Regions from separate parts of the Homo sapiens genome. Here regions 2 and 3 are each reported to be linked to region 1. Evidence: microRNA targets listed by miRTarBase, many of them from high-throughput screens and not tested one by one. Region 1 holds a microRNA gene; each other region holds the end of a gene's coding sequence.

Region 1 (3,334 bases):
GTGCGCCAGTGGTAGCCCTGTCGGCTGCTTTCGACCTACCGCCCCCAGCGCCCCTTCCGCGTGGTCCACCTGCACAGCCGGGCCCCGGATCTGAAATCTCGGGGCCCTCCCTGGGCCTAGGGTTCTTTCGCTGTGACCCAGGCCTTAACCAGGAAAAGGATCCTCGCGACCCGGTGGGCGCTTAGACCGGGTACCGTCTCTTCTCATCGAAGTCTCACATGTTTGTTTTAATAACATTTCATTTCTCCCATTTTACACATGATGAATATTCGTCACTGGAATAAGGCAGTATAACATTAAGGCCACTTTCACGACCTACTTAAAATATCTCGTTTTAAAAAGAATAGTGTTCCGCGGTTTCAGGTTATTTGCAAGCATTTTCTCGTTTGAGATATGGGTGTTTTTTTGTTTGTTTGAGACGGAGTCTTGCTCTTGTCTCCCAGGCTGGAGTGCAGTGGCACGATCTCGGCTCACTGCAGCCTCCACCTCCCGGATTCACAGGATTCTCCTCCTCAGCCTCCCGAGTAGCTGGGATTACGGGCGCCCGCCACCACGCCCGGCTAATTTTTGTATTTTTAGTAGAGACGGGGTTTCGCCATGTTGGCCAGGCTGGTCTCGAACTCCTGACCTCGTGACCTGCCCGCCTCGGCCTCCGAAAGTGCTGGGATTACAGGCATCAGCCACTGCACCCAGCCCGGGTGGTCTTTATGCCCAATAAATAAGCACTCTGATACAGTTGGCGGTTTTCTTCTCTTGATACCTGAGAAATCACAACCATCATGATGGCTTCCAGAATTACCAGACTTTTTTTTTTTTTTTTTGAGACGGAGTTTCGCTCCTGTTGCCCAGGCTGGAGTACAGTGGTGTGATCTTGGCTCACCGCAACCTCCCCCTCCCGGGTTCAAGTGATTATCCTGCCTCAGTCTCCCAAGTAGCTGGGATTACAGGCACGCGCCACCACGCCCGGCTACTTTTGTATTTTTAATAGAGACGGGGTTTCTCCATGTTTGTCAAGCCTCGAACTCCCGACCTCAGGTGATCCGCCTGCCTCGGCCTCCCAAAGTGCTGGGATTACAGGCGTGAGCCACCGCGCCCGGCTCAGAATGACCAGCTTTTAATGTGACTCCTTTAACCTGGTGTGCTTTAACAACGATCCTTAAAGCTTCCTGTTTTAGGCAACAGCCATTTACGGGCCAACCAAATAATGCGACCATAATAGAAAATAGGCCTCAGTTGGAGTATCTTGCTCCTCTACCAATAGGAAAGGTCTTTTTCTTTCTCCCACAAAGGTTCCCAAATGTCTTCATTTCACTGTAACTTACTCACCCCCCACCCCACCCCCATTCCTTTTAATAGAGAAGCTAACTCAGTAGAGAGAGTTGGGAAATCCGGAGAGCAGGGAAACCCAGGGGCAGGAAAAGCTTGGCAAGGCCCCTTTCTGGGCCAGGGCTGAGGCCCTGCTGGGAGGCGCCGAAAGAGCACTGGGCGGACACGACATTCCCGATGGCTTCTCGGGTGCCCACTCAACGGGAGTGATCGTGTCATTCCAAAGCGCTTTCCATTCTGAAGGTGCATGACCTGGAGACAACTGCTTAGCAGGGTTGGGAACCCTCAGTCAAACTGAGGACTTCAGATACTCTCATCCACGAAGACGGTTGGGGTGGTTTTTCCCCAGGAAGTAAGAGGGCTATCTTTAGCGAGATGCGGGCTGAGGCAGCCCTGGGGGAGTCACTACCATTGCAGCCCTACCCAGAGGTCCTGGGTCCACCCTCCCTCGCCAATCCTCCCCAGGGTTCCAGAGATGGCCACCAGCCTCGGCTCTCCCACGTCTACACCCATCACCTCCAGCCTGAGGGCGCAACTGAGAGGAACTGAGACCCAAGCAGCTCAGTAAAGTATGTCTGGGGGTCAGGGGCACCCCATCTGGGCCAGGGCGCTGCTCAGGCAGGAGAGCAGGGGACGAAATCCAAGCGCAGCTGGAATGCTCTGGAGACAACAGCTGCTTTTGGGATTCCGTTGCCCGCTGTCCAGCCGTTGGCGGGGGGCGGGGGAGCTCCTGCCCCCAGGTCACTCGCCCTGGGGCCACATCAGAACCCGCCCATCCCCAGTCCCAGGAGGAAGACCCGGGAGTAGGTTGTGAAACGGAGTCTAGAGGGAACAAGACGCTCACCTGGGCCACAGAACAATAGAAGGGGAGGTGGGGGCCTCCCCTGGGACCGGGTCCCGATCCGGATTAGATCCGTGGGGCAGGATTAGCCCTGTTGGTCCCACGAAGCCTGGGCCACTGGTGCGGTGACGGTGGTGGGGCGGGCTTCGGAATCCGTCAGGAGGGAAGCGCGCCCGTGGGGCCGGAGAGGAAGTAAACCCGCGCGTCCACCTCGGGGACACCCCCGCGCTCGGTGGCCTTTGTCCGGTGACGCTGCCAGCGCCCGGAGCACCAGGGGCCGAAGGGGTCCACAGAGCAGCCGCGGGACCCCCGGAAACCCATTGCGACCGGCCCCAGGAGACCCACCACCAGGCTCCCACTGTGCCGAGCTTCCCGCTCGCCCGGCCCCGCGGGTAGCGAAAGCGACAATGTTCCCCTGAGGCCACGACAGAGCCGGCGTGCCGAGATGCCCAAACCCCGCGCGGGGGCCAGCGACTCTCGCGCCAGTAGGCCCTTGACTTGGATCAAGACGGGGGACGGGGGACTCCCAGGACGCGAGCAGAGTGAACGAGGACAAGGTGATGCTCCACGCGCTTCTACTTCAAGTCTGGTCCGGTTCGGCCTGGTCTGGGCCAGCCGAACAGCCACCCAAACACTATCACAGCTTGCCCTTCCGCTTGCTCTGGCTGCCTGCAGACTTGGAGCCATTTTAAGGAGAAACCACCTGGCCACGCCCCCTAGAGAACCCGAGAAGCCAATCCACGCTCGGCCACGCCCCTCTCCGCGCGCTGCGGAGAGGCCAACGGTCGCGCGGGTGACGGTTAGGGCGGGGCGTGCTTCCGCGTCTAGCCGGAGAAACTTGAGCCGGCTGCCCCGCCCACGGTGCCCGAAGCCCCAAAGGCTGGAATTAGGGGCTAGAAGTCTGGCACCCACCGCCTGGCCAGGTGTTCGGGACGCGACCAGGTGGGCGGTCGCCCCGCCCCGGGAGCGCGGCTTAATAGCTGAGAGCCCGGGGGCCAGGCCGCGGCTGCGGCCCAGGCAACGCCCTGAGGGTGGCCACGCTGCCAGGTGTTCCACTCCCCCGGGACTATGGGCAAGGGCCCGGGGCGGGGAGGGCGGCAGGTGCTGACACTGGAGCTGCGCCGGAGGTCGGGGAACTCGGCCTCCTAAGACTGAGGACACTCGCCT
Region 2 (3,073 bases), not on the chromosome of region 1:
CCCAGAGCAGGCCACCTGAAGGGAAGCACATAACCACCCCTCGGGAGCCCTTGCCCCCCATTGTGACTTTCCAGCTCATCCCTAAAGGCAGTATTGCCCAACCAGCGGGGGCTCCCCAGCCTCAGTCCACCTGCCCTCCAGCTGTTGCGGGCCCCCTGCCCACCATGTACCAGATTCCAGAAATGGCCCGTTTGCCCAGTGTGGCTTTCCCCACTGCCATGATGCCCCAGCAGGACGGGCAGGTAGCTCAGACCATTCTCCCAGCCTATCATCCTTTCCCAGCCTCTGTGGGCAAGTACCCCACACCCCCTTCACAGCACAGTTATGCTTCCTCAAATGCTGCTGAGCGAACACCCAGTCACAGTGGTCACCTCCAGGGTGAGCATCCCTACCTGACACCATCCCCAGAGTCTCCTGACCAGTGGTCAAGTTCATCACCCCACTCTGCTTCTGACTGGTCAGATGTGACCACCAGCCCTACCCCTGGGGGTGCTGGAGGAGGTCAGCGGGGACCTGGGACACACATGTCTGAGCCACCACACAACAACATGCAGGTTTATGCGTGAGAGAGTCCACCTCCAGTGTAGAGACATAACTGACTTTTGTAAATGCTGCTGAGGAACAAATGAAGGTCATCCGGGAGAGAAATGAAGAAATCTCTGGAGCCAGCTTCTAGAGGTAGGAAAGAGAAGATGTTCTTATTCAGATAATGCAAGAGAAGCAATTCGTCAGTTTCACTGGGTATCTGCAAGGCTTATTGATTATTCTAATCTAATAAGACAAGTTTGTGGAAATGCAAGATGAATACAAGCCTTGGGTCCATGTTTACTCTCTTCTATTTGGAGAATAAGATGGATGCTTATTGAAGCCCAGACATTCTTGCAGCTTGGACTGCATTTTAAGCCCTGCAGGCTTCTGCCATATCCATGAGAAGATTCTACACTAGCGTCCTGTTGGGAATTATGCCCTGGAATTCTGCCTGAATTGACCTACGCATCTCCTCCTCCTTGGACATTCTTTTGTCTTCATTTGGTGCTTTTGGTTTTGCACCTCTCCGTGATTGTAGCCCTACCAGCATGTTATAGGGCAAGACCTTTGTGCTTTTGATCATTCTGGCCCATGAAAGCAACTTTGGTCTCCTTTCCCCTCCTGTCTTCCCGGTATCCCTTGGAGTCTCACAAGGTTTACTTTGGTATGGTTCTCAGCACAAACCTTTCAAGTATGTTGTTTCTTTGGAAAATGGACATACTGTATTGTGTTCTCCTGCATATATCATTCCTGGAGAGAGAAGGGGAGAAGAATACTTTTCTTCAACAAATTTTGGGGGCAGGAGATCCCTTCAAGAGGCTGCACCTTAATTTTTCTTGTCTGTGTGCAGGTCTTCATATAAACTTTACCAGGAAGAAGGGTGTGAGTTTGTTGTTTTTCTGTGTATGGGCCTGGTCAGTGTAAAGTTTTATCCTTGATAGTCTAGTTACTATGACCCTCCCCACTTTTTTAAAACCAGAAAAAGGTTTGGAATGTTGGAATGACCAAGAGACAAGTTAACTCGTGCAAGAGCCAGTTACCCACCCACAGGTCCCCCTACTTCCTGCCAAGCATTCCATTGACTGCCTGTATGGAACACATTTGTCCCAGATCTGAGCATTCTAGGCCTGTTTCACTCACTCACCCAGCATATGAAACTAGTCTTAACTGTTGAGCCTTTCCTTTCATATCCACAGAAGACACTGTCTCAAATGTTGTACCCTTGCCATTTAGGACTGAACTTTCCTTAGCCCAAGGGACCCAGTGACAGTTGTCTTCCGTTTGTCAGATGATCAGTCTCTACTGATTATCTTGCTGCTTAAAGGCCTGCTCACCAATCTTTCTTTCACACCGTGTGGTCCGTGTTACTGGTATACCCAGTATGTTCTCACTGAAGACATGGACTTTATATGTTCAAGTGCAGGAATTGGAAAGTTGGACTTGTTTTCTATGATCCAAAACAGCCCTATAAGAAGGTTGGAAAAGGAGGAACTATATAGCAGCCTTTGCTATTTTCTGCTACCATTTCTTTTCCTCTGAAGCGGCCATGACATTCCCTTTGGCAACTAACGTAGAAACTCAACAGAACATTTTCCTTTCCTAGAGTCACCTTTTAGATGATAATGGACAACTATAGACTTGCTCATTGTTCAGACTGATTGCCCCTCACCTGAATCCACTCTCTGTATTCATGCTCTTGGCAATTTCTTTGACTTTCTTTTAAGGGCAGAAGCATTTTAGTTAATTGTAGATAAAGAATAGTTTTCTTCCTCTTCTCCTTGGGCCAGTTAATAATTGGTCCATGGCTACACTGCAACTTCCGTCCAGTGCTGTGATGCCCATGACACCTGCAAAATAAGTTCTGCCTGGGCATTTTGTAGATATTAACAGGTGAATTCCCGACTCTTTTGGTTTGAATGACAGTTCTCATTCCTTCTATGGCTGCAAGTATGCATCAGTGCTTCCCACTTACCTGATTTGTCTGTCGGTGGCCCCATATGGAAACCCTGCGTGTCTGTTGGCATAATAGTTTACAAATGGTTTTTTCAGTCCTATCCAAATTTATTGAACCAACAAAAATAATTACTTCTGCCCTGAGATAAGCAGATTAAGTTTGTTCATTCTCTGCTTTATTCTCTCCATGTGGCAACATTCTGTCAGCCTCTTTCATAGTGTGCAAACATTTTATCATTCTAAATGGTGACTCTCTGCCCTTGGACCCATTTATTATTCACAGATGGGGAGAACCTATCTGCATGGACCTCTGTGGACCACAGCGTACCTGCCCCTTTCTGCCCTCCTGCTCCAGCCCCACTTCTGAAAGTATCAGCTACTGATCCAGCCACTGGATATTTTATATCCTCCCTTTTCCTTAAGCACAATGTCAGACCAAATTGCTTGTTTCTTTTTCTTGGACTACTTTAATTTGGATCCTTTGGGTTTGGAGAAAGGGAATGTGAAAGCTGTCATTACAGACAACAGGTTTCAGTGATGAGGAGGACAACACTGCCTTTCAAACTTTTTACTGATCTCTTAGATTTTAAGA
Region 3 (3,334 bases), not on the chromosome of region 1:
TCGCGCCCCTGCACCCACCGCCCCCGCCGCCGCCGCCGCCCGCCGAGCTCAAGGCGGAGCCGGGCTTCGAGCCCGCGGACTGCAAGCGGAAGGAGGAGGCCGGGGCGCCGGGCGGCGGCGCAGGCATGGCGGCGGGCTTCCCGTACGCGCTGCGCGCTTACCTCGGCTACCAGGCGGTGCCGAGCGGCAGCAGCGGGAGCCTCTCCACGTCCTCCTCGTCCAGCCCGCCCGGCACGCCGAGCCCCGCTGACGCCAAGGCGCCCCCGACCGCCTGCTACGCGGGGGCCGCGCCGGCGCCCTCGCAGGTCAAGAGCAAGGCCAAGAAGACCGTGGACAAGCACAGCGACGAGTACAAGATCCGGCGCGAGCGCAACAACATCGCCGTGCGCAAGAGCCGCGACAAGGCCAAGATGCGCAACCTGGAGACGCAGCACAAGGTCCTGGAGCTCACGGCCGAGAACGAGCGGCTGCAGAAGAAGGTGGAGCAGCTGTCGCGCGAGCTCAGCACCCTGCGGAACTTGTTCAAGCAGCTGCCCGAGCCCCTGCTCGCCTCCTCCGGCCACTGCTAGCGCGGCCCCCGCGCGCGTCCCCCTGCCGGCCGGGGCTGAGACTCCGGGGAGCGCCCGCGCCCGCGCCCTCGCCCCCGCCCCCGGCGGCGCCGGCAAAACTTTGGCACTGGGGCACTTGGCAGCGCGGGGAGCCCGTCGGTAATTTTAATATTTTATTATATATATATATCTATATTTTTGTCCAAACCAACCGCACATGCAGATGGGGCTCCCGCCCGTGGTGTTATTTAAAGAAGAAACGTCTATGTGTACAGATGAATGATAAACTCTCTGCTTCTCCCTCTGCCCCTCTCCAGGCGCCGGCGGGCGGGCCGGTTTCGAAGTTGATGCAATCGGTTTAAACATGGCTGAACGCGTGTGTACACGGGACTGACGCAACCCACGTGTAACTGTCAGCCGGGCCCTGAGTAATCGCTTAAAGATGTTCCTACGGGCTTGTTGCTGTTGATGTTTTGTTTTGTTTTGTTTTTTGGTCTTTTTTTGTATTATAAAAAATAATCTATTTCTATGAGAAAAGAGGCGTCTGTATATTTTGGGAATCTTTTCCGTTTCAAGCATTAAGAACACTTTTAATAAACTTTTTTTTGAGAATGGTTACAAAGCCTTTTGGGGGCAGTAATTGGCTTTTGTTTTTTATTTTTTTACTTTATTTTGGATTTGTAGGATTTTGTTTTTGCGTTTCTGGTGTGTAGGGGGTTGTGTGTGGGGGGCTGCTGTTATTTTTGGAGGTTTTGGTGGTTGGGTGGGGGTGTTGCAGCTGGTTTTTCTGCCTCCTCTGCTACTCCCCCTCCCACACACACAGGGTCTGCTTGAGATGGGGTTCCAGCCCCGGGGGAAAGGGGAGAAGAGTAATGGGTCAGGCATTCAGGCTGACTCAGAGCCCCTAGGCGCCGGGACGGGTGGCTGGGAACCCTGCTTGAGAAGAGATTCCGGAGCCTCTGGCTGGTCCCGAGTGTCAGGCTTGGGTTTGGAAGGGCTGGGAGGTCTGTGACCCCTGCCCTGTGTTTGGGGACTAGGTAGGCAGGCCTGTGACTGTAGGAGGAGGGGGTTCAGGTCTTGGTCCTGCTGAGCCCGAGTCAGGGCAGATGCTTTTGGTCAGTGTAGTGGGGTGGGTTGTTTAAAACACAGTTTGTGTATACATGTGTATTTTAAAGAGGGGAGCCTGGGTGTGTGGGCGAGTCTGTGTTTGTGTGTCCCTGGCCAGCAGGAGGGGAGAGGCCAGGCCAGGTGGAGAGAGGTGGGGGAGGGGTTCCCACACTTTGATTACCTTTCCTGAGGATGGGAGGCTCATCACTTGCTCTCTTTGCCCAGACTTGGACACTGAGCCCACCTCACCTGCCTGCTCAAGGTGGCTGAGCCCAGGCACAAACGTGGGGCTGCTAGCCCTGATTCCCTGGGACAGGCTCCTCTTCCCTGCCCACTGATCCCTTTGCCCCTTCCGGCTTCTCACCGCACCCCCTACTCCCATCCAGCCCTGGATGGCATTCCTGAGAGTTGAGGATGTAGATGGATGTGAGTGGATACATGTACAGCGTCCCACAGTGCCTGGCACGCAAGAAGTGTTATATAAGCGCTTGCTCTTGTTATTATTTTTTGCTGGGAAGCTGCTGGCATTTGGCACCCCAGTCTCCAGTGCAGCGCCAGTGTGGCCAGTACTTGCCAGGGGCCGGCATCTGGTAAACACTGGACCTGCCCCATCCCATTTAGACCTCACAATAACCTTTGGGAAGGTGGGGATTGTTATGACGCCTGTTTTTAGAGGTGGGGAGCAGCTTTGGGCTGTCCGATCCCTATGGGCAAGACACTGGTTGGGGGTTGCCCTGCCCTGAGGAATTCAGGGGCAGCAGGCATCGTAGCCTGGTTTGCCAAGGACCTGGGGCGGTCTGGGATCTCAGGAGCAGTTGCTGATACCGTGGTTCGCGAATGGGAAATGCTTTGCCCCTCCTTTTCCTTTTGGGGGCCTGGTTGTGCTTTCCCTGTGGGAGCCTGGGATGTGGGGAACAGACAGCGACACTCATCCCCCACCGCCACAAAGCGGAGGATTCCTATAAGCTCCACCTCCCTAATGCCAGTGTCTCCTGATGGTGGCTCGAGGGCTATGCAGATTGCTGGACACAGATAACCTCACTTCAACCTGGGACCTGCAGCGTGGCCCTGACCACGTCCCCTCCCAGCCCTGGGCAACTGGACAACTGGCCGGGCATGCCTTCAAAGCCTCGAAGTCAGTTCAGTCCCAAGCCCCACTGGTCTCGATGGTTTCTGTCAGTAGCAGCGACAGCAATGTGGGCTTGACCTCAAGGATTTACTTGCTGAAGGCAGAGGCTGAGGGGCTGGACCTAGGGAAGGAGGGAGGTGGAGAGGGTCGAAATTGAGGAACAAATCTCAAATCCCTGCTCCCTCCTTTGTCACCAAGAGTTGGCTGGTGGCCACTGCTCACCCAAATGAGGTGAGAGGGAAGCAGCCTGGCCAGACGGTGCCCCTCTTCCGCCCCCGTCTGCCCCACAGCTTCGCTTCTGTTTCCCCAGTGCTGTCCTGGAACCAGCGTTGAGTCAGTTCTTCACACACTCACATCTTGCTCTCATCCACAGTACCCCACAGAAGGTGCTAGACCCATTTCTAAAAGCACACATTGAGGTCCACAGAAGTGAGGTTTGTGCTCAAGGTGGGCTAGGTGGAGCAGGTTACAAAACCATCCGACTCCCAAGTCTATGGGGAAAGTTTGGGGCTGGGAGCCTGGTTTGTAATCCCAGTTCCTGTTTAAAATC

Evidence for each region. Region 1 holds the annotated microRNA hsa-miR-191-5p (CAACGGAAUCCCAAAAGCAGCUG, at 1,997-2,019, opposite strand). A microRNA usually pairs through its seed, bases 2 to 8, with sites in the 3' UTR of a target mRNA and lowers its output. Matches are read on the target gene's strand: a 7mer-m8 pairs with bases 2 to 8, a 7mer-A1 pairs with bases 2 to 7 and ends in A, and an 8mer does both.
Region 2: the mRNA of NOTCH2 is a reported target of hsa-miR-191-5p. Seed matches in the 3' UTR shown: 7mer-m8 at 1,804-1,810.
Region 3: the mRNA of CEBPB is a reported target of hsa-miR-191-5p. Seed matches in the 3' UTR shown: 7mer-m8 at 1,113-1,119.

Annotation. Positions count from the first base shown.
Region 1 is chr3:49,018,676-49,022,009 of GRCh38, forward strand. It overlaps MIR191 (microRNA 191), which reads right to left and starts at 2,034; the gene lies at 1,943-2,034. It overlaps MIR425 (microRNA 425), which reads right to left and starts at 1,559; the gene lies at 1,473-1,559. It also overlaps a transcript of DALRD3 not described here and a transcript of NDUFAF3 not described here. RefSeq lists an enhancer at 2,533-3,302 and silencers at 2,818-3,020, 3,057-3,246.
Region 2 is chr1:119,912,799-119,915,871 of GRCh38, reverse strand. It overlaps NOTCH2 (notch receptor 2), which reads left to right. Exons shown (of 34, transcript NM_024408.4): 34 at 1-3,073. The coding sequence ends at 566. Among named protein-coding and RNA genes, the nearest start is that of ADAM30, 18 kb to the right of the region's middle.
Region 3 is chr20:50,191,503-50,194,836 of GRCh38, forward strand. CEBPB (CCAAT enhancer binding protein beta) reads left to right here. Exons shown (of 1, transcript NM_005194.4): 1 at 1-1,166. The coding sequence ends at 569. CEBPB-AS1 (CEBPB antisense RNA 1) reads right to left here and starts at 567. Exons shown (of 7, transcript NR_125739.1): 1 at 162-567. RefSeq lists silencers at 1-140, 561-670 and an enhancer at 2,035-2,596.